Linked DNA regions of Homo sapiens: region 2 is linked to region 1. Evidence: fine-mapped expression QTL. A gene starts in region 1. The other region holds a variant in brackets. All regions are shown on one strand. Distances are between the middles of the regions. Region 1 holds the start of KIAA1549. Region 2 overlaps KIAA1549.

Region 1 (12,412 bases):
GGCTCAAGCAATCCTCCTGCCTCAGCCTCCCGAATAGCTGAGACTACAGGTGCATGCCACCATGCCCAACTAATTTTTGTACTTTTGTAGAAACAAGGTCTCACTATGTTACCCAGGCTGGTCTTAAACTCCTGAGCTCAAGCAATCCTCCCGCCTTGGGCTTCCAAAGTGCTAGGAACACAGGCGTGAGCCACCGCACCCAGCCTAACTTTTTTTCTAAGTACTGGATCTGGGATAGATTAAAAATCAATGAATGAATGTACAGGTGATAGTCAACACAGTTAACAGCAGTGGAGCACGAGCACTGACAGTCGGAAAGGGAGCTATTCTAATTTTACAGGTAAAGGATCTGAACAGACATTTCTCAAAAGAGACACACAAATGGTCAACAGGTAAAGAAAAATTGCTCAGCATCCCTAATCATTAGGGAAATGCAAATTAAAACCACAATGAGATAGCACCTCAAACCTGCCAGAATGGTCTTCAGCCAAAAAACTAAAGCAGAGTCCTTGAGGCACCTGCTGTGCTGAGCATTAACCCTTCAGTCACTGGATCTCGGTGAGGTGGAGGGTGGCGGTGGTCCTTGGGAGAAGAGTCCTGAAAGAGGGCAGGGAGGCTCAGGGTACTTGGGGGTGGGGAGCAAGGAATATTCAGTACAGCAGCTATTTACCAACTGCTATGGTAGTATCTCAGTGGTTTGGTTTTGTTTTTTGAGACAGAGTCTCATTTTGTTGCCCAGACTGCAGTGCAGTGGCGCGATCTCAGCTCACCGCAACCTTTGCCTCCCGGGTTCAAGCCTCAGCCTCCTGAGTAGCTGGGATTACAGGCACCCACTACCATGCCTGGCTATTTTTTTGTGTTTTTAGTAGAGACGAGGTTTCACTATGTTGGCCAGGCTGGTCTCGAACTCCTGGCCTCAGGTGACCCACCTGCCTCAGCCTCCCAAAGTGCTGGGATTATAAGCGTGAGCCACCACATCCAGACTGTATCTCAGTGTTTTTACAACCAGTCAAATGCTCGCAATGAATGAAAACAGCAGGTCTAGGGGACAATTCTAATCTAGTTGCCTGGTCAAATAAAATATGGTTCTTGCACACTATTTACACAGACTCAGTCCCAAAAGCAGGTGTCTCTCAAGGTCTCTGGAGATTTACATAGCTCCAGAGTTAGTCCAGGCTGACTTAGCCTTCAATGTTCCAACAATACCTATTCCCAGAAGGCTAGAACAGAAGGCACTTTACCTCTTAGCCCAGTGCTTCCCAAACCTCAATTGTGCATGCAAAATCACCAGGGGGATCTTGTCAAATGCAGATTCTGATTCAGAAGGTCGGGGGTGGGCCCTGAGATTCTGCATTTTCTAACAAGCTACGAGGCAGTGGAGGCAGTGATGATGCGAGCTAAGAGGCAGTGATGATGCTCAGAGTGTGGGGACCACAAGATTAGAATTTCACTAATGAGAAGTAATTGCCTGAAGCTAACAAAGGAGATGGAAAAAAGAAAGAGACAAAGAGAAAGAATAAGAGAAAGCAAAGTATGGGTCTTGAGTGTGTGGATGCAAGAGGGAAGAATAAAGGGAGTTTTTAAAAAGAAGAGCCATCTGCAATGGTGAGAGTGAGCTGCCTTCAGCAGGTCATGGGCCTAGAACATCTACCAGGCAAGGAGAAATGACAAAACAACCTAACAGAAAAAGGACAGATGCTGCTTATAAGTGCATTCCAAGACATCCAAGATGTTGACTTGATATGTAGGAGCTACAGGGAGAAATGAGCTACAAGGAGCTAGAGGGTTAATGAGATTAGCGCTAATCTCATTAACCCTTTCTTACACCGAGGAGGAAACCCAGGACAAGGTAACTTGTCCATAGTCACAAAGTTACAGGCAGATTTGCATTTGCACACACCCAGGTTTTTTAACTCACCTTTTAACAAATCCTGCTGCCTAACAACAAGAAAAAGAAATCACATCATTGTGAGCTCCAGATGAAAGGTGGGTGGTCACAACTTGAAAACAAATTAGATCAGTTAGAACAGTGTCTTCCTATCTGGGAAAATCAACCTAGTGTAATTATAATGACGGTAATTAGCTGCCTCTATCATTCAGGGCACTGATAGAAAACCTGTGGCTCCCACGTCCCTAGTGACTTGTAACAACTCCCTGGCTGGGTTCTGTTTTCAGAATTAAGTGAGGCACTTCCTGACAAGCACTGCAGCAGCTGTTCCCAAACGGGCAGGAGTGAGCATTGAAAATGCAGTCCTCTGCACCCTTTCACTCCCAACCCAAACAAAACCAAGCAAAAACATGTAACAAAAAATGCTTATTTTATTTTACCTTATCTTATTTTATCTTATTTTATTTTGAGATGGAGTCTTGCTCTGTCACCCAGGCTGGAGTGCAGTGGCGCGATCTCATTTCATTGCAACCTCTGCCTCCCGGGTTCAAGCAATTCTCCTGCCTCACCCTCCCAAGTAGCTGGGATTACAGGCACCTGCCACCACACCCGGCTAATTTCTGTATTTTTAGTAGAGACCGGGTTTCACCATGTTGGCCAGGCTGGTCTCCAACTCCTGACCTCAGGTGATCCCAAAGTGTTGGGATTACAGGCGTGAGTCACCGCGCCCGGCCTCAACATAACGATTTTAAATTAGCTGTTCTAACAGTGAAAAGACAACTGCAAGATACCAATGGTATACAGTAGTCCCCCTCCTCCAAGGTTTCGGATACCGGAGGACAACTGCAGTTTGAAGATATTTTGAGATATTCTGAGGTATTTTGAGATACAGCATATTCACGTTTTATTACAGTAGACTGTTAGAACTGTTCTGTTTTGTTATTATTGTTAATCTCTTACTGTGCCTCATTTTTTAATTAAACTTTATTGCAGGTATGTACATATAGGAAAAAACCATGGTATATACAGACTTCAGTACTACCCAAAGTTTCAGGCATCCACTGGGGGTCTTGGACCACATCCCTTGCAGATAAGGAGGGACTACTATATCTTCAAAATACTGTTAATTTTCAGTTACTGGGTTTACCATATCCGGATCAGTGGTTCCAATGCTCAGGGGCTAAAACGGAGCTGTCAACTTGTTAAAATGAAGATTCCCAGGCACTGCCACCAAAGAGTCTAATTTAGAGGCTAAGGGTGAGTCGTAGACATCTAAATTCTTAACAAGCACCCCCACATCCCCAAATGATGTTGATGCAGGAGGCCTAGGGGCCACACTTTTGAAACATTTAAGTATTTGTTTATAATATCCTAAACGACTCACAAAGCATAAATATTCACCTAGAAATGGCCAATAATAAAACAGCACATTAAGAAAAAAATTTCACACACCATAAGCATAAATGCAATAAAAAAATTATTAAAAGAACAAATGGCAGATCTTGCTAATCAAAACAACCAAAAACTTCTACATTTCAAAATTATGTAAAATTTAAAAGAAATTCCTTTGGAAGGGGAAAACGCAACATATAGAAGGAAAAATGGTTGCTATCCTTCTAATACATAAAGATTTAAATACATATCTATGCCACAACAGGTAAATAAATAAAAATACAGAGAAAATTCACAGAATACAAATACAAAATAAAAAATATTCAATTCTAAAGCAATAAAACCGTGCAGGTTAAAACAATGTATTACAAATTTATTTAACAAGGGCTTTTAAAGTAACATTCAATGCCAGTGATGAAGTGAATACTCAATGCAAGTGATAATGGAAGGCCCCTGCGTAAGCTTCAAGGGCTTATGTCAGCATTATAACTTTCAAAAATTGCTTCATTCAAAAATCACATACTGAGTACCTACTAGGGGCCCAGCATTTTGAACAAAAGATGCAGAAATCCAGCCTGGTGGGCCTTACATTTTAATCACACTCTAATACCCCTTCCACAAATGTATACTCAAGAAAACACACACACACACACACACACACACACACGGAAAGAAACATGCACAAAGCCTTTTTTTTTTGAGACGGAGTCTTGCTCTGTCGTCCAGGCTGGAGTACAATGGCGCCATCTCGGCTCACTGCAACCTCTGCCTCCCTGGTTCGAGCAATTCTCCTGCCTCAGCCTCCCAAGTAGCTGGGATTACAGGCACATGCCACCACACCCAGCTAATCTCTGTATTTTTAGTAGAGACGGGGTTTCACCATGTTGGCCAGGATGGTCTCAAACTCCTGACCTCAGGTGATCCGCCCACCTCGGCTTCCCAAAGTGCTGGGATTACAGGCGTGAGCCAGCGCGCATGGCCAGCAGAGCCTTCTCTATGTAGCTATTCATCAGCATTACTTACAGCAACCCAAAAAATGGAAATAAAAGAATAAATCATTAGGATAGAAAATAGTTTTCAAATAAGACTTAATGAATGGAAAAATGCTTAAGTTAAATGTAGAGTGGAAATGGTAGTAAATACAATTGTGCATATAATTCTTTTTTTAATGTTAACAACAAAAAAACGATAAAATTACTTAGTGTTACCTACAGGCTGTGAGATTATGGGTGACTGGTTTCTGTACCTTTCAGTAATTTCCAAATTCCCTACAAAGCAATCTATTTCATAATAACTATTACTTTTTAAAAACTTATCTCTGAATAAGGTGAAGAAACTGGGCATGATTCTTTGTTTTTATACTGTGGATGGCTAATCACTTAAGAGCAATGCATTCAAAAGTAAGTCCAAAGCATTACAAGTTGTTTCCACAACAGTCAATGGTTAAGACCAAACTTGTAAATTTTTTTTTTAAAAAAACACACTCAAAATGCTGAATGAAATACAAATAGACAAGAAATCGATTTAACATAGAGATTTAACCAAAGACTGTAATAAGGGGACCACCTGGAAGGTGGACTCTATTGAACAAAAGTTAACAAGAGAAGCCAGCTGAAGGAGGAGATAGCTTTCAGACAGCCACGGAAGGGAATGCTGCCTCACATAGGAAGTCCAAAACAGGTCTAAGCCATGCCATTTTCTGACTACCACTGCTTATTCCTTAGAAAGAGAACCAACCACCACAGCAGTGTTCAGCAAAGCTCTCCTACATTCCAAATCTCCTGGTGAAAATACCACACTCAGGACTGGGAGGGCAGCCCAAGCAACTGCAACGCACCCTCTTCCCAGGATCAACAGCACCGCCCAGGCACCCTACACACACCCTAGCTACATCAGGAAGCCACCCTCCACCAAGATCGTTCCTCACAGTCTTCAAGTAGATGGGGTCACCTCCAGCAGGTCATCCATAAGGAATCCTGCCTTTCCTGTCCGGGAATGGTCTGTGCAAGGGTTTGTACTTCCTTCACTGCTCTGTGTTTCCAGCTGGATCCTGGAGCACAGGGGCTGTGCCCTCCACTTCTTAGTTCCTAGTCTATGAGCCTGGCAGCGGCTGAAGCCAATATACAAACCAGTGAAAGGATGAAGTCTCTTTCCATGATGTCAGGTCTAGAATGGAAATATTATTAATTTCATGTCTCCAGGTTGAATATTTGTATTGGGGGTAGAGGGGAAGCAGGAAAGGACTTCCAAAGAAGAGAAGGTTAGGGATGGGCAGTGCAAACAGCTTCACTATTTATTTTAAAGTTACCAGAAGCACTTATATTCTCCACAACCTCTGCAGTACACCCAGATGGCCACATTCATATGGGGAAGCCATCAGGCACAGAAAGGAAGCATGTCATAGAGTCTGAAGCCAAACCAACCTAAACTCAAAGCCTTAGTTTCCTCATCTGTAAAATGGGGATAACTATGCCTAACTCACAACGTGATTGGATCGTGTATATAAAATTCAACATCTGGCACACAAAAAGCACTCAGGAGATGGAAACCATTTATCTGCTGTGTCTTATGACAGATGAATCCACGAGTATCAGATGGGCTCTCTTTGTTGACTAAAGCCAAGAGACCCTTGACAATGATCTCTTCTCCTCTGGACACACAGGGCTGGAACTCGCAGGAGCAGGACTGAGACGGGAGGTCCTAGGTTAGAGTAAGGTGTTTGCACTAGCTGTATACTGCCTAAAAGAGACTCATTCTGTCACCCCAACCCTGGTTCCACCCAGCTATGGGAAATCTCTGCAGAGGCTTCAGGTGTGGATATGTCTATGGGCCAAGAGCGGGGGTGGGAGGCAGGGAAAGTGATGACTGTGACCTTGAGCAAGGCACTTCTCTGCCTTAGTTTCCTCTTTGGTAAGCAGAGTGGACCTGTTCCATGATCCCTGAAGTCCTCCCTGTGCTTCTATTGTACCATCCCCTCTAGGGCACTGGTTATAATTCTCACAGGTCCAAGGGACACCTTCAAATGTGTTCCAATTCCTCCCAGCCACTGAGTAGCCCTTTGGCCCTGCTCCCACGAGAAAGGAGGATTCGGAGCAGCGTTCACGGCTTTCTGGTTTTTGTTCTGTGTGCAGCAGCTCTCCACCCCTAGCTGCTCCTTCCACCTTTCCTTTTCCGCCTCAAAGTGGTCAAGTGCCTGTGCAGGGGCAATCGCTGGCCTGCAGTGTCAGCTCAGAGACGGTTTCCAGACCATCCTGTGTACAGGCTCAGGGTGGACAAATAAACATTTTGGAGAAGCAATAGGAATTAAATCATTTCTTCCACAACAAAACCCTTATGCTTCTTCATAAATCATGCCTCTTCATTCCATACTGATGAACAGTCACTAAATTGCATCTGTTATAAAAACAGCCCTTACTCCTTTCATGCCCAGACACTTAAGAATCAAAATATTTTCACACTCCATTGTACTAATAATGCCTTGCAGAAGTAATACCAATAGCTATTTCCCTGGAAAGATCCGTGGCCAGGGCGCTTTCCAAGAGGTTTTCTTTGAATGTTCTTTGTGTCCTGCTGTACGGGGGGACACGGCCGGCCTGCCCGCATCTGGGGGACGCTGGGCTTGTCCCGGTAATGCAATACTCTTTTAAAGCACACCTCGAATCCACCTCTTCGCCCCGACAATAAAGTATCTCAAAACATTCGATATGCCACATCATACAGCCTTGACAAAAAAGCACGCCGGTGCCTGCATTCTGCAGGAAAAACCAGGCACATTCTGAGATGAAGCCACCAGACCCGCTTCGGGTTCCATGGACAAGAGAACAGCTTTGCAGACCCCTTAGCAAGACCGGCCAGAAGCCGCTCGCTTGTTCGTTTTAATTATTTATTTCCCCCGTGCCTTTATTTGTTGGGCCCCAGAAGAATGGCAAAGCATCTTCCAGAAAGGACGGCGAGGGAGCTGGAGAATAAAAGAGGATGGGCGGGGAAAGCCGGGGTTTTGAAAACAGCAGCGATAAAGGCAGGCGGGGTCGCGGCCGCGTTCCGAGGGTCTCGGCGGAGCTTACCTGGGGCGCACGAGGCCGGCCGGGCCAGCAGCAGCAGCCAGAGGCCAGGAAGCAGCAGCCCCGGGCGGCGGCGGCGGGCGCAGCGGGCGGAAGGCCGTCGGCCGCTCGGCCCCGGGGCCAGCGCGACCCCGGCGCGGGGCTTCCCCTCCATGGCCGCGCCTCGGCGTCGGCGCCGCGCCCCCGGCATTCCCGGCCGGCGCCCCGGCCCGGCCTCGCGGCTCAGCGGCTCTCGGGTCCGGGAGGGGCGGCCGCTGCGGCTGCGGCTGGGACGGGGCGCCGCGCACCGGCGCGGAGGGAGGCCGGAGAGGCGGGGGCGGGCCGGGCCGGAACCGAGGACAGGGGCGCCAGCCGCACGCCCGCCTTGCCGCTCCGCCCCCTTCGGAGCCTCGGAGCCGCTGCCCGGCAACGCGCGGGCCCGGGCGCGGGACGGCGAGCACCCCCTCCCGGCCGGCCGGACGCCTGCCTGCCTGCCTGCCTGCCTGCCTGCGGGGCGGCCGGGGCAGCGTGCGCGGGGCTCGGCGCGGCAGAGGCGGCAAGGGCGGCGAGGCGGCGCGGCCCAGCCCTCCCCCAGGACCCGCCTTCCGGAGGGAGCGCGAGGGGCTCGGGGGGCCTGGGCCGGGCGGTGCCGCCCCGACCCGCACCCAACCCCGGGTCCCGCCGCGCGTTCCCCGGGGCGCCCGGATCAGGGTAGGCCGGCAAGCCGGGGGAGGGGTCCTCTCGCCTCCCTCGCTCCTCCTCTCCCGCCGACTCCTTGCGGGCAGCAGGTGTGTGGGGCGCCGCGCTCTCAGGACAGCCTCGGGGCCGCGGAGGGGACAAAGCCAGACAAAGTCGGGCTCCTGCGCTAGAGCTCAGCGTGCAAGGCAGGGGCGAGCAGAGCGCACGCAGCTCTCCCCCGCCTTCCTGCCTTAAGAAGGTGCGGCCACCTCTGCGGGTCTTCGGGAAGCGACCCTGCGCTCAGGGCCTGGGAGGCCCGCGGGACCCTGCACTTAGCAGGCCTTGAGCAGGCGGCTGCTGAAGCGAATGGGCGTGGAGCTGGGGAGACCCGCAAGGCCAGGCCGTTTTAGGGAAAGTGGCGCTCCTGAGAGGTGGAGAGAATGCCCAGAGAGCGTTTGAGGGTTGGAGTCCGCGGGGGGAATGAGGAACGGGAAGAAGGGAGTTGACATCTGTCAAGTACCTACTGTGTGCCAGGCACGTCACTCTGAAGACGCCCCGTGGCTTCAGGGTCTAGGGAGGAGGAATTGGAAGTTTTGAATCGTTGCATCCCACTGGCATTGTTGCATCAAGCAGATATTAACGGTGTGTGTGGGGGACACTATCTCGTGCAGAAAAACTATGGCAGACAGCGGAAAAGGTGAATCATTACACTGGCAGAGGGATCCTCGCGGCTATTCAGTCGGGTTCCCCTGCCAGGCCCAGCCCTTGAAGGGGCTGCCCAGCCTTGCAGCTCCAACTCTTCTGGACTCCTTGCCCTTGGCGAATAGTTCTTCCTAAGAATAGGACAGGGGCACTCTTCTGTAGGTACACACCTGGTCCTTACAGGTGGGTACTTGAAACCTGGTAGTTTCAAGGAAAATGAGAATAAAGGTTAAAAAAAGCTTTTGTTGATGTTCCTGGTGTTTTTACACGTTATTGTAACCCCCCATCATACAGCCCCTATGTTTATTACAGTAACTGCTCCTGTCTCCCAAAGAGGGTTCTGCGTGCACACCCAGGTAAGTACCTAAGAGAAACTGCCCAGATATGTCTGGTCCCAGGACACCATGGCCATAGATCTGGGACCTCTTATTCACACACTTATCTTTATTCTCTGAACTCTCTATAACAGCACATTTGACCACAAACCACTGCCTTCGTGCAACTCTTGAATGGTCTTGTCCTGTTGTGTTGTTTTATCTTTTATGAATTTATGCTTTGCACACACAGCCCCCACCCCACCTCCAATAAATTAATATGAAATTCAAATATGGTGCTATCCTGCTTAGGATTTCTCATAGCCCCAGTAAGCCCTCAGTAGACAATCGTTGGTTTGAGCCAGAGCATGCATTCCGCCCGTGAAGAGGTTCCATCTTCAGATTTGGCCTCAGCCTCCTGCAAGCTGCCATCTACACTAGACCCGTTGGTGTCAGAGAAAAAAGCCTCCCTCGGCCATGCGCGGTGGCTCACGCCTATAATCCCAGCACTTTGGGAGGCCAAGGCAGGCAGATCACCTGAGGTCAGGAGTTCAAGACCAGCCTGGCCAACATGGCAAACCCCGTCTCTAATAAAAACACAGAAAAATTTACCCAGGCATGGTGGCACGTGCTTGTAATCCCAGCTACTCAGGAGGCTGAGGCAGGAGGATCACTTGAACCCAGGAGGCGGAGGTTACAGTAAACCAAGATCACGCCACTGCACTCCAGCCTGGGTGCCACAGCAAGACTCCATCTCAAAAAAAAAAAAAAAAAAAAAAGGAAAAGAAAAAAGAAAGGAGTCTCCTTCTCCATTCTCTGCAAACTCAAAGACAATAGTGTTTGCCCTGCCATTAAGAGATTGATCAGCTGGAAGTAAAAATAAAAATTGGAACCCTGAGATACTAGAAATGACTCATGGACACCAAAGTGTCCGTGGAAAGTGAGGTCCCTAGGGTCCCTTAGTCTCCCAGCTCTGAAGGCATAAAACAAAATCTTACCTCTGTTAGGATTTAAGGCATTCTGCCTCCATGTCTGGGAAAATGTCTACCAGGCTCTGACAGTCCAGCTGGTAGGTGGTGTTACTCTGCAGACTCAGAGGGGATGAGTGGTCCTTGGAGGTAGGGGAGTGTGTGCAAATGTGTGTGTGTGTGTAAGATTTTAAAATCGATTTTAGAGATCATCTCATCCAATTCTCATAGATAAAGAAACAAGCCAGAGAGGTTAGTTTATTTCCATAAGGCTCAACTCCAACTGGAATTGTCGTCTCCAGTTAAACCACACACCCTCCAGGGGAGGGGGAAAATTAACCTGGGTCCTCGATAGGCTTACAATCTGGTTTGGAGACAGGGAGAGGTAGGCTCAGTACTATCCTTAGACCTAGACGAAGCGGGCCCCACTCTGGCCTTCTCAAACTGCACCTCTCTCCTCAGGACAGAGTCTGTGAAGCCCAGGAAGCACCCTCACCAGCAGCCCATCTTCCCATGCTCAGGTGCCCAGGACCCCAGAATCCTGCCCATTTCACCCCAGGCTCATCTTCAGGCCTATGTGGCCTCTTCCTCAAGTCCATTCTCCCAAGGCTGCACCAAGGGTGTGTCTGGTCCCACGGGGTAGTTGTTTGCTAGGGAGTGGCAAAACTTACGCAGGAGGCATCTCTAAAGATGCGCACATGAAACCTATAGGAATGAAGCAGAGGACCAGGGATGGGAAGAGAAGATCGGGCATGGCCCATATTCACATGGCAACCTGGCTGCGATGTTCTGCTCACAACTGCAGGAAGTCTGCGAATCCTGCCTGTGAACCAGCCTAACCATTCTGAAGACATACGTTTGTTAAGGTAGAACAGACATATTTAATAGTTTGCTTGCTTGGCATGTAACTTGCTGATGAAAATCTGGTCATCGATGTGAAATGGCCAAAATGGCCAAATGTGAAATGGGCTGCGTGAGCCCCTATTTGCACTCTTGACCTGGGCCCCTCAATTCTTAGGGTCTGGATAAGGATGGGACAGAGGGACTGAAGTTAGAGGATGGCTGGAAGTCGGTAGAGGGTAGTGTGAGAGTCCTAGAATAGGAATCAGGACAGCTGAGTTCTGCGTTCTGCTCTGTCACAGAAAAGTTTATGAACTTGAACAAAATGCTTCACCCTACTCTCAAACCTCAAATGTTCTTATCTGATGATGGGCTTCACATGCCTACCTTGCTTAGCTGTGGGTTCGGTTCTTAAGAGAATTATACAAAATAAGATGAATGTTCACAAAGGTCATTCATTAAATTCAATGAATATTTTTTGAGCATGTACCATATGCCAGGCAGTGCAGTGGGCACTGGAGGTATAACGGTGAACAAAACAAAGGCCCTTCCTCGTGGAACTTATGTTCTAGTGAGAGGAGACAGGCAATCAGTAAGTGAGCCTTCGGCTGATGACAACAATTTGCAGAATAACAAAGAGGGAAAAGGAGTGAGGGAAGGGTCAGTGTTACTGTGTTAAATAGAATAGTCAGGGATGATCACCCTACTAAGGTGACATTGGGCCATGGGGATAGCTGGGGAAGAGGGTGTCAGGCAGAGGGAACAACTGTGCAAAGTGGAGAAGTAGCCAGAATAAACATTCAAAAAATATTTACTGAGTCCCTACTAAGTAAGCGCCCCGTAGAGTCATGTGCTAAATGATCAGTAAGATTAATTAGGCCGGGCACAGTGGCTCACGTCTGTAATTCTAGCACTTTGGGAGGCTGAGGCAGGTGGATTGCTTGAGCCCAGGAGTTTGAGACCAGCCTGGGCGACATGGTGAGACTCCCATCTCTATGAAGAAATCCAAAACATTAGCTAGGCATGGTGGCGTGCACCTGTAGTCCCAGCCACCCGAGAGGCTGAGGTGGGAGGATCACCTGAGCCTGAGGAGGTCAAGGCTGCAGTGAGCCGTGATCATGCCAGTGCACTTCAGCCTGGGCAACAGAGCTAGACCCTGCCTCAAAAAAAAAAAAAATAATAATTGTCTACAGTTTTTTCAAGGAGCTTACAGTCTTACGGGAAAAAAAAAAACAAATTTTAAAAACCTACATATTGCAAAGTAGAACATGACAGATGTCCGAAGGAAGTTATAAAAAAAAGTTCAAAGAAGTAGAAATCATATTTGGCACAAGAGATCAAGCAAAGCTTCAGTGTAGTGTTGCATGGAAGCTGGGTGTTAGGGGGCGCCTAAAAAATGAAGAGGACTTGGACAGCTAAAGAGAACAGGACAGGTGTTCCAGGTGGAGGGAACCAACAGTACAAAAATATAAAGGCAGGAATGCATGAAATTTATCTAGCTGATGGCCAGATCAGCTAGAGCAGTGGTTCACAATGCTGACTGCAAATTAAAATCACCTGGACACCACAAACAAAACAAAACAGAACACC
Region 2 (12,412 bases), 89 kb before region 1:
GAATAGCTTGAACCAGGGAGGCGGAGGTTGTGGTGAGCTGAGATCGAACCGTTGTACTCCAGCCTTGTACTCCAGGTGGATTGTAATCCACCATTGTACTCCAGGGGGACAAGAACAAAACTCTGTTTCAAAAAATAATAATAATAAAAATGTATATGTGGAGTCCTGATAAGTAACAATGCGGAAGGGGTCCCACGTAGGGCAGAACAATTGTTCTGAGAAATGGCTCATCACAGACAACCTGCTGGCATGACATCCTGTTTCCAAACACCTCATTCTGCTCATAGCCCTAGCAGCATGACCCATAAAACTTCCCTCCTGCCCCCGTCTCTTGCCCGACAGCCCCTTCTCTGCTGTGCTGGCCACTGCACCCTTGCAACATTATCTTCATACATTCTCTAATAAATCTGGCTTTCTTTACCTGCAGCTGTCTTGGCCTTTACCACCCACAACGATGGCCCCAGCCAGACACAACGGCAACCGTATCAACCCAAATTGTAATCTGACCGCCTTGGGCCATTTACTCACAGCTTCTTGGGCTCGTGCTTTCTCAGGGCCATGGTCACTCATACTGGCTTGGAATAAACCTCTTTAAGATATTTTACAGAGTCTGGTTTTTCTGTTAACATATCCTTTGTGATAAACTGGTAAACAAAAGTAAGTGTTTCCCCAAGTCCTGTGAACTGCTCTAGCAAATTAATCAAACCCAAAAAGCGATGGTGGGAACCTCAACTTGAAGCCAGTCGGTCAGAAGTTCTGGAGACCTACACTTGTGATGGGTGCGGGTGGAGGAGGACAGTCTTGGGGACTCAGCCCTCCACCTGTAGGATCTGAGGCTACCTCCCAGTGGACAGTGTCGGAACTGAATTCAAGGACACCCAGCTGATAACTGCTGCTTGGTGTGTGAGGAAAGCCCCCCCCCAAATTCGGTCACAGAAGTCTCCTGTGTTGACTGTTGTGTGGTGTGAGAGCAGAGGAGAAACATGGTTCGAGTTTTTCCACTCACACACACACCCCTACAGAGTCCTGTCAGTCAAAAGACAAAGGCCAAACAGATCTAAGGAGTGATTTTAGACAATATATTACACACAGAAACAAAAGGCTTTGTCTTATTTGTGCTAACTTTATGCACAAATGAGTGACAACATCAGTGGCTTAGGTCTGTGACCTAAGGTCTTTTTTTTTCATTTGATGTGGTCTCGCTCTGTCACCCAGGCTGGAGTGCAGTAGCACAATCTCAGCTCACTGCAGCCTCAATCTCCCAAGACCAAGCAATCCTCCCACCTGAGCCTCCCAAGGAGCTGGGACCACAGACATGTGCCATCACGCCTGGCTAATATTTTAAAATTTTTTTGTAGAGACAGGATCTTGCTACATTGCCCAGCTGATCTGGAACTGCAGGGCTCAAGCAATCCTCCTGCCTCAGCTTCCCAAAGCGCTGGGACTACAGACGTGAGCCACTGAGACCGGCCTTAAGATCTTTTATAAGCTGAAATTCTCGGATCAATGGGTAGAAGGAATGTCATCTGCAATAATGATTTATGCCAGCAGAGGGGGACAAAACTTACAGTAAACACAATTTACAAAAATGAAACAAAAGGCAAAAGCTGACTTCCTGTTTTCTGATTAAAGAGCTCCTGTTACAGGAGTACACCACTCCACCACTTCAGCAGTTCATGAGCATAACAGCCCCTCAGCCTTTTGCAAATGACAAACCCAAACCTGTTGTTCCACTGCATGCCCATTATTATTTATTTAAATAAATGTATTTATTATGATTTATTTAAGTAAATGTATTTATTATGATTTTTTTTTGAGATGGAGTCTCACTCTGTTGCCCAGGCTGGAATACAATGGTATGATGTCGGCTTACTGCAACCTCCACCTCCTGGGTTCAAGCAATTCTCCTGCCTCAGCCTCCCAACTAGCTGGGACTACAGGCGTGCACCACCACGTCTGGCTAACTTTTATGTACATATTTTTTTATTACAGATGGGGTTTCACCATGTTGGCCAGGCTGGTCTCAAACTCCTGACCTTAGGTTATCCGCCTGCTTCAGCCTCCCAAAGTGCTGGCATTACAGGCATGAGCCACCACGCCTGGCCTATTTATTATTAAATATTTATTTAAAGTAAATTTATTAAGCACTTGTGTAAATTATTTAAATTAATTATTAAATATTTATTTACATAAAATAAATTCATCATTAGATGTTTCTTTAAACACATGTATTTAAAACGTATTTAAATAAAATGCGTTTATTTTCTCATCTGTGACCCATGGACTAGCACCCTGAGTTTCAACTGGTCTACCCAAACCCCGGGGAGCAGACACACAGTTTTCTAGGAGCAGGCAGCCCTTTTACAGGGATCATTCCAGATGCACACCTCTGTACAAGTCCTCCCTACACTAGTGATTTTCCTGAGAGCTGTCCAGCATGTGCCTGTGGTCCGGGCAGCATGCTGGCTCCCCCTCCCACCTTCCCTTTCCCAAGTCCTCCCACTTTACAGAAGAGAGGCCCGCCTGTCATCCATGCAGCAGCTTCCTGCGGTGCTCTGCCCAGAGATGTAGAAACCTCGGGAACATCAAATAAAATCACAATTCAAAATGCTGGTCTTGGTCAATCAAGGCACAATAAATTTGTGGTATGGTTTGCTTTCTCTCTTAAAGAACTGAGAGAGAAATACAGCCATGAAATAGGACAATTCGTTCCACGTTGGGAAACTGTGAACTTAGATATTCTGTAGAGGAGGTGGCAGCAGCAGCAGCAGCAGCAGTGAGGTTTTTATTTCATAGCTTCCCCTCGACCATCTCCCAGCCATTGAAGAACAGTTCACTCCCGCAGAAGAATACAAGGAGAACAGGGAAGAGGACGGCAGTGAGAAATGCCAAGGGCATTGTCTCATTTCATCCAGGGGACAAACTCATGGCAGGGCTCTGTGCTTTATCTGTCTATGTGACAACTGTAATCTTCAAGATCTGTTCAGCAGCATGTGGGAAACCCAAGGTGCCACAATGCATATGCTTTCCGTGAGCTCACCATCCTCAGGAATGAAAGCCTGGCAGGCACCCTTGTCCACGGGGACTCAGTTGGGGTCTTAACAACATATTTTGTATTAAAAGGAAAAAGGGGTGAAAAGGTCCATGTTTACTTCCGAAAGATCAAAATTACAACTTCAAAAGAACAAATAAGGGAGAGCTGAGTTAATACTGTATACTTTCCCGCACAATTACTCAGACTTGCAGGATACTTTCGTTCACTTCTTTCAAATGATTGATTACTGGATACTGCACATCTGTGTCCAGGTTGCTTGAATGCAAGTCACTTGTTCACTGGTCCATGACCCCTTTCTCTGCTGGTTTATTTGTTGTCCCTGTGTACTTACTGGATTTAGATCAACTACACAGCAACACGTTTGGATTCTACCATAATGTACTTAACAGCAATCATCTATGTGTCTTTTCTAAACCCCACACTTACTAGTCGAATATTTTTTCCTTTTGTTGTAAATTTCCACAAAGATTCAACTGCTCTCTTGAAAGCAAATCATTGATGTATGTATGGGCAGATGAAAAATTAGGCAGGCTAAGAGGTAACCCTCCTGCACATTAAAAAATCCATTCTGTGTGATTAAGATGATTCCTTTCTCAGACTTTGACATGCGGTCCTAATTTATGAAATATATAATTATAAATATTATTTTCATCTTGAAATGAAATACTAATCCATCTATATAATTCTCAAATGTCCATCTGTCAAGCCTTTTTCAGATGCCTGAGAAAATTGATATTGGATGCCACTTATTCACAGCTGATGATAAAAATCCTAACAGGAGCGATTTCCAATTTTATGGGGTTGCTTTTACCCCAGCAGCACTTCATTTAACTACATACAAGGTGCCTCTAAGCGAAAGAAAACAGATATACTAAACAGTCATTTAATCATCACCTCCATCATTTAATAAACCTTGCTGAAATCCTTTTTGGTATACTTCCCATTAAGAAAGTGAATGCCTCTAATGACTGGGCAACTGTTTTGTTTTGTTTTTAACAAATTAGGTGGTTTGCTTTACCAAAACTGGAAAAGGAGCTACAGATGGCCTCCCCTAAGTGGAGGTCTCCAAAGTCAACAACGTAAAAATACAAACAGTATTGCCTCTATAGGGCGGTCTACGTAGCCCAAGCCTAGGCACCTAAATGTCTTCCCTCACGTACACTCAGGGCCCATGTAGGAAAGAAACATGACAGTATTCATGAAAATGCTTCATAAATGCCAAAGTACCCTACAAATGATGCTGACAGCATTATTATTACTGTTGATTGATGAAACATCGAGCAGTTAATATACAGCTAAGAATTCTAAGGCATCAGAGTTATAAATAAGAATTTAGATACAATATTTTGTTAAGTCAACAACAAGATGCGACACAGGGTCCCTCAAGAAATAGCTGATGACCAGATGAATTTCAAAACGCTCAACTGAAGTACCAAACTGACTGGTTTTTTTCTGGGTAACCAAGAAAACGGCACGTGTCATAAATGAAATATACAAGTCCTCTTGGCTTACTGTTGATTCTGACCAAAGTCTTTAAATACATCCATTAGATCCTTGCACTTCTCACAAACTGAGTGAGTCATCACCTTCTATACCAATAGAAATTTGGCAACCAGTCTGTGCGTATTATGCACAAAACAAAAGCCATCTACACACAGAAGGAAAACCTAGAGGGAACACTGCCCCTCCTCCCTTAGATAATTACCTTCTTTTGTCTCATCTCTACTTGCCAGATCACTTTTTCTAGTTTCTCCACTTCTTTTAAAATAGAACCTAGAGTTCAGTCTGGCTGGTATACAATGTCTCCAGCTCCCTCCCACATGCAGCATAGGTTTAATCAGTATTTTATAAAAGAAGAATCAAGATTAATGAGAGTGTTCAATATTCATATTAGGACCGAGTTATTTCTGAAGAAGGATGGCTCTTTTGTTCTTTCTCTCTTTAACATATCACAGAGGGAACAGGCCACAGTGTCTGTGCCCCACCGGAATACGTCACCAACAAGCCCAGGAGACTGACTGGTGGGCAGGTCAGCCAAGTAATGAGAGAGACGCCTGATGAATGTGAACACGTGGGCCATAAATACAGTACAGCCCAGGTGGCACAAAACGCAGTGAAGCCCACAGTATTCGGGTTAGCCTGAGCCCCTGGGAAGGAGTTGAGATGACAATAGAAACACAGAGCAAATCCCAAAAGTGTCTGAACAAAAATTTGCCATCATGTAGCGAGTGCCATTGAAAGCATTTATTACCTGATTGATGTCATTTGTGAAACGTCACCACAACCACCATGCTGCTTCCATTTAGGAAGTGGAGACAAGGCAAAGTTATTGCCATCTGTTTGTCTTCAGTGCAGCCCCACACGGGCACTCCCGTAACCCTGTGGTCCCGGAGTTTGGGAGAGCAGGGCTCCCAGATTCTCCCACCCACAGGTGACACCCGGCACGGTCAGCCAGCTGTGGGTGAACTGAGACCACCTACACGTTAGGTGTGACAGGCGACCTTTGCAGAGAATCAAACAGCAACCATAGGGAATGAGCTGACCTTGGCTGAGATGGAACGATATGCTCACAGAGCCTCTTTTCAATTCACTGTCCATACTGCCTCCCAAAGGGATCGTTCCAAAAGCAAATGTGTTCAAGCTGCTCTCCCTGCTGAAAACCTTTCAATGCTTGCCCACTGCTTACAGCATAATTTGCAATCCCTTCTATGTCCTGAAAACCCCCCAGGGCCTGGCTCTCTGCCACCTGGCTTTCGGCTGTGCCCTTTTTTATGACCTTTGCTCTAGCTTCCTGAGCTGCCCTCCGCTCCCCCACTGGGCCCGCCTTCATCTCCACCGTGAAGCTTCAGCCCTGGTGTCACCTCCTTGAAGAAGGTAGAAGTACCCCACCACTGCAAATGGGGTGCCCCCCTCCTCTGTGTTCTCCAGACATCCTTATACTCCTGGATGTCTGCTTTCGGATGGCTCGTCCTTCTCCCTTGCTAAAGCCCTGGAATGCAGAGATCGCGTGCTATTTGTGTTGGTAACTGAGCCGGATCTGG[T/C]GTGGCTCACAGCAAATGCTCAATGTTTGGTGAGTGACACCCAGTGCCTGAGGCAGCTCCAGCCGGTTGCCCAAAGTGCTGCCCTTTAGAAGCAACCAAGGGCAGTCAGGAGCTCTGGTCTGACACCAGTAACGAGGTGTGGACTATCCCCCATCAGAAGGAATAAGTTTCCATGAGGCCAGTGGCATCCAGCCAATGCCATTCATGATGAAGAGGATCCGGGCTGGAGTTTTTTAGGCAACAGTAACAAATGATGACTTGAGTCTACAGATAGAGAATACAGATAAAAGAAAGCATGGGGTTTTCTTCTTTATTACTGAAAATAAGCAAAGGCTGTGCCTCAAAACAAGACAGAATGGCCTCTCCCTCCTATCATATTTCAAAATTAATCTACTCCCAGACAATCTGAAGAGGTTTCCTTCTCGTTACGAGGGGAAGGGGGGTGCAGATTTTAGGTCAGCAGATTTATTGTTTCCAGATGTTTGCAGCTCTGGGATTTGCTGAAGGATTTCCGAGAGTATGGTGAGGCGCATCAGGAGGTGGGGAGAGCAGAACGGAGAGAGAGACAACAGCCACATGAGCAGGAGACAGAGCTCTTGAAGTCATAGGGGAGGGTGACATCTCTGCACATTACCCTGAGGACGAGGCTAGAGGCCCTTTGCTATGGCCACATGACCTTAAAAGAAACACGTATGAACTAAAGACATTTGTTTTTAAACTAAATGAAGAGATCATTTTCCCATTTTAAACACACGACAAAATCTATAGGGTGGGTTCCTGTGCCAGCAAAACACGACTGAGCTTCTGCAACACTGGCAAGGCTTTGCCCTCCTAACAGTGTCAGAAGACAGTTATTCTTTTGGGGAATCCTCCCTGCAGGACCTTTTCTGTAAACCTGTTGTCAGGATGTATGGGCAGGTCTTTGCAGCCCTGAAGGAAAAAGAGCAGCTCTAAGGGCTGGAAGTTCCATCTGAAACTCTGTCCATTTGATTTACAGCCACATCTGGGACTTGAAAATGTTTAGGAAGTAAAAGTGAGAGAAGGAGAAAGCTTGGGGAATATTCCATTTTGACCCCAAGAGACGCTGTGCTCTGATAATTTACTGAAGTTACAGATAATAGATGGACTTCCATGGCAGTGTATACGTTAGGAAATGTGGCCCATAAAAGACCTAAATACATAACCGTCTACACTGGTTAACTCCCTCTGTAACAACACTCTTCAACAGAACAAAAACATTTCCAAACCTATTGTTGATCTTATTACAGTGAAATTCACACTATGAATCATTTAGTATACCCAGCACTTTTTTTCCAGGTTTCCCCATGCCATTCACCAGTATAACAAGAACAACAAAAGAACCTTAGCAGACTGTGTAAATAATAAACAAAGATAGGCAACAAACATAACATTAATGTATAAAATGCTTTTCATGTACTTGATAGCCATAAGCTTGCAATTTAATAAATACTTTGCATTTTTTTGTTAATTCATATGAAAAGACAAATACTCTTTCTTTGCTTTTACAAAAGTAAAATAAATTTTAAAGTAATGCATATTTTTTTTCCATTCGACAGGTCTAGGTTTGTAATATGCAGAATTTTTCATACCCAAGACAACCAAAATAAAGTTTAAAAATAAATAGGGCAATCTTTTATTCTTTGTTTTTTGACTTTTGCTTGTTTTTATCAAGCTTTTAAAGCAGGATGAGTCCTCCAAATCTGGGAGACCCACGGAAAGTGCATGTTAATCCAGCAGACTGTTAGTAACAGTGGACTGACTACCACGTTCCACTCCCTTGGTAAACACGCTGACTGATACTTATGCTGTACTAGTGAGTGCTCCTCTAGGCCTGGCATGTTTTTGCTCACACCAGGTGAGCTCAATGTTGACCAAAAGTCAATGTCTTTGCTCTGAAACCTGATGTGACCCTCGAATACTATGGAAACTGTTGAAACATACGTTGGAAAAGAAAATTGCTATTTCTATAAACACTTAAGTTGAATGCTTTGGAAAGACATAGGAAAGAGGGGTTACTTAAAAAATCTGCTGTCAAATTAGGTGTGAGTGAATTAACTCAAAAGTCTGCAAAATTAGGAGATAGGGAGTGGGGGGAGGTATTAAAAAAATCGAGAGAACTTTGCATTCAGGTAGCTTTGCTCTTCTCTAAGATAGGGAGTGGGGGGAGGTATTAAAAATCGAGAGAACTTTGCATTCAGGTAGCTTTGCTCTTCTCTAAAGAAACCCAAACTGGAACCTGAAACTGACACGTCATGGGTGTTGTTTATTGTAAGAAAGACCAAACACAATTCCTCTCAGTAGACCAACACTCAAAACAAAACAAGACTTGGGATATGTTGAAGGATTGGCAAATAAATGTCCATTCATATATTTTAAGTTAAAATGTTCAAGGTATGTATTGTTCGTTTTTAATGATCAAGGTGGGTAAGTGGGCTTCCAAATAGGGTGAACAGAAAATAAAGCAACTGACCAATGGAGTTGTACACAAAATAGATAAACAGATCTGAGAAAGTCTGCCTTGGCTCCTATCCTCTGAAAATATCCAGGGATAAAATAAATCAGAATTCGGCCTGGTGCGGTGGCTCATGCCTGTAATCCCAGCACTTCGGGAGGCCAAGGCAGGCAGATCTTTTGAGGCCAGGAGTTCGAGACCAGCCTCGCCAACATGGCAAAACCCTGTCTCTACTAAAAATACAAACACTGGCCAGGTGTGGTGGCACACGCCTGTAATCTCAGCTATTCGGAGACCGAGGCAGGAGAATCGCTTGAACCCAGGAGGCGGAGGCTGCAGTGAGCCAAGCTCACGCCACTGCACTCCAGCCTGGGTGACAGAGCCAGACTCTGTCTCAAAAAATACAAAATAAAATCATAGTAGAACCCGGAGGGCATGTCATGGCTAGGCTTTTATACAGTTTCACATTCTTGGACTGTATTTACTACCACAGAAGGAGGGTTTCAGGAAGCAGAAACAAAGGCAAAGTGATACCACTATTAAAGCCAGAAGATTTCCATAATAGCCCTCCCTCTTCCTCATCTTTCAGTATCAAGAGCCCAAACTCATCCTATCCCTGCCCCACAAAACTGCTTATAGGAACACTGGGGGAAGAGGCTGCCCGTTACCTTCTGACGCTGCTGAATGTTGGCCACAGTGTCAGGCTGAAAGTCTAGCTTGTCTGTGCGGCATAGTTTCCAGTAGAGGATGACAACAATCACCATCACCACCAGCACTGGGATGACCACGCCAACAATGACCCACAAGTTGTTGCTCTGGGATTCCGGAGACGGCCTCTTCACCCTGTCGACAGCTGCAGACAAGGAAGAAAGGTCTTTCAATAATTCCTTCTTCACTCATGCACTAGATTGCACGTGTCTTCTATGAGAAACTCAGAAGTCCCTGACATTCCAGCTCAAGATAGCTGGTTCCAGGTTCTAATCTCCTGATGACAGGAAATGTGACCAGCAGAGAAACACAACATACAATGTTACATCTAGAATACATCAGGGATCACAACGACATATGGATATATCCAAAGGTACATGGCTGAATTAATGGCAAAGCTCAGTTAATTCCAGGTCTCCTGATTTCCAGTTTATTCTACTAGCTCACCCGTAACTTATCACTGCAGGATATTTCCACACCAAAACTGGTTCTGCACAACTTTGTACAAAGGCAGTTCTCTTCAAAAGTGGAGAGAAAAACAGCTGTGTCTCCAGAACATAATCCTGCCCGCTCCATCAAGTACCGCAGGACTCACACCCTCCTAGATCACATAAAGCACATGCATCTCAACTAGGAGTTTATGGAAGAAAACCCTTCATCTCTTTCTCCCTTCCCTCACTACTCCAAGTTTCTCATGTTCACAAATGTTTATTAAGTGTGCTGGACACAGTTTGTAAGCTGGGACTCAACCATGAACAAGCGAAATCCCTTGAGGTGCTTAAGTCCTAGTGGGGGAAAGGAGAAATGATCAAGTAAATGAATCACCGAATAATTTCATATTGCACTAGTGCCAAACACAAAGCAAAACAGAGTAAGGAGATACGACATGTGCACCAGTGCAACTGGTCGTTTCCCCTTCAGCAATGAAAAATGACAAAGAGATGCTGATGTTCGTAGCAGCGCTATTCACGACAGCCTAAAAGATGAAAAGAACTCAAATGCCCATCCACAGATGAATGAATGAACAAAATGTAGTATAGCCATACAATGGAATATCATTCAGCTTTAAAAGGGAAGGAAATTCTATACATGCTGCTGCACAGATGAACCTTGAAAACATCATGATAATGGAACAAGCCAGTCACAAAAGGACAAAATGTATGATTCTACCTACATGAGGTATCTAGAAAAAAACTCATAGAAAGCTTCTGCTTGGAATGATGAAGAAATTCTGGAAATGGATAGTGGTGATGGTTACACAGCCTTGTGAACGTACTGAATGCCACTGAAGTATACATTTAAAAGTGTTAAATTGGTACATTTCTTGATGTATATTTTACTGCAATAAAAAAAGAAGGAAGATGATCCTTATGTTTTCCAAAATGAAGCTTCACTGTGTTAATTTGGAAACTGAAGTCCTAATAAGCGTCCCATAGGCACTGCCTTCATTGCCCCACCTGTGTCTCTCCCTAAACCTTTGAAACATGACTCATCGAAACGGCATTATTTAAGCTACCAGTTGTCCACTTTTACACGAAGCATATCTTACTCATTTTGGATCCACCACTCCCCACCCTGCTGCCACACCCACCCCACCCGGCCCCCACTTCTCTTTCACGGCATAGGACAGTTGCACTTCAACTCCTCGGCCACTTCATGTCCTTCACTAGCTCTTTGTTTTGCACATGGTGCCTTACTGCTCATTTAAAATGCTTCCTGTTATATAAATGGATAATCCGTGAAGTGCTACGCTTCTGCACTCATTCATCCGGTCTTGACGCCAAATCTTGTCTTTTCAAAAACATCTTAGTTTTCATGGGCAGGGACTAAGTCTTATGCTCCTTTCATACCCTATGATGGTTAACACCTGCTATGGGATCAAAAGGTATCTGCTCAAAGACGTAATAACAAAAAGGGTTCTTGGTGCTGGTTTAACTTTGGGTTTAGACACCTAAGGGAGTGGCAAGGGAGGGAGCAAGCATTCTAAATCAAATGCACCAGGGAAAAAAGCACAGATTAGAGCACAGGCTGCATGGGATGTGGTAAAAAGCAACAAAGTGAAAAACTTGTGTTTTTTAATTTGGGCTGAATATAGTTAATATATGTAGCTCATTTTGCATAAAAGCAACGGACAATATAGAAGTACGGACAGAATCAAACTGAGAAGCTGAGACAACTGGACACTCTTCTTAGTTCTTTTGTGGGTGTGGTTGTTTTTTTTTTTTCTTTTTGAGATAGGGTCTCACTCTATCACTCAGGCTAGAATGTGGTGGCACAATCAAGCTCACTTGCAGCCGCGACCTCCTGGGCTCAGGTGATCCTCCTGCCTCAGACCCCCCAAGTAACTGGGACCACAGGCATGCCCCACCATGCCCAGCTAGCTTATTATTATTATTATTTGTAGAGATGGGGTCTTGCTATGTTTCCCAGGCTGGTCTTGAACTCCTGAGCTCAACTGATCCTCCTGCCTCTATCTCCCAAAGTGCTGAGATTACAGGTGTGAGCCACCACACCTGCCCTCTTCTTACTCTAACCTAGGAAAACCCTGATGAGGCAGAGGTTGATCAAACTGGACCCTGACACCAGTGTCCTGGGGCTGCCTTTGGGCTATCCCTGGTGTTGGCTGAGGCTTCCTTCAATCGCCATCCCTGAGATCCCAGGATCTTTACCCACGTGGTTTTCGGTACAAAACTGAGGAAAAGAGGTGCAAGATCACATCTGAAAGGTGCCCATATTCTATTGCAATTAGCTGTTTAAAATGTCAAGTGCTTGGCTGGAGTAGGGCACGTCTCCTACAATCAGGAATCGCATATATGAAGAACTGTAACGAAGTGCTTTTGCTATTTTTTGCTCACTGCTTTGGAGGAGAACACATCAATATGTGATCATATCTCACATACACAAACACAAATTGCCAATGGTTATTTGCTTAAACCCTCCCATCATCTTCCATAAAATAGAGAAATTATGCCCATCAGCTCTCATCTTGGTTGGTCTCCAGGGACAAGTACAGATTTCATAAAAACCTTCTACTATCAAGGATAATTTAAAAGCTATCATTTTTTAAAAATTGTCTTTATCTCCTACATGTTCTCCATAAAGATTTTTCTGTATTCTCTGATGCTGAATTCCCTC

What was found. PIP is the estimated chance that this variant, and not a neighbour inherited with it, causes the effect.
Region 2: its variant is fine-mapped to the expression of KIAA1549 in fibroblasts (GTEx, PIP 0.93).

Annotation. Positions count from the first base shown.
Region 1 is chr7:138,973,739-138,986,150 of GRCh38, forward strand. It overlaps KIAA1549, which reads right to left and starts at 7,651. Exons shown (of 20, transcript NM_001164665.2): 1 at 7,345-7,651. The coding sequence starts at 7,531. RefSeq lists enhancers at 328-828, 829-1,329, 6,570-7,456, 8,079-8,428 and silencers at 6,265-6,559, 7,399-7,528, 7,569-7,948, 7,969-8,098.
Region 2 is chr7:138,885,105-138,897,516 of GRCh38, forward strand. KIAA1549 reads right to left here. Exons shown (of 20, transcript NM_001164665.2): 10 at 9,238-9,422. Among named protein-coding and RNA genes, the nearest start is that of KIAA1549, 90 kb to the right of the region's middle. The variant T/C (reference allele first, on the strand shown) is at 6,097.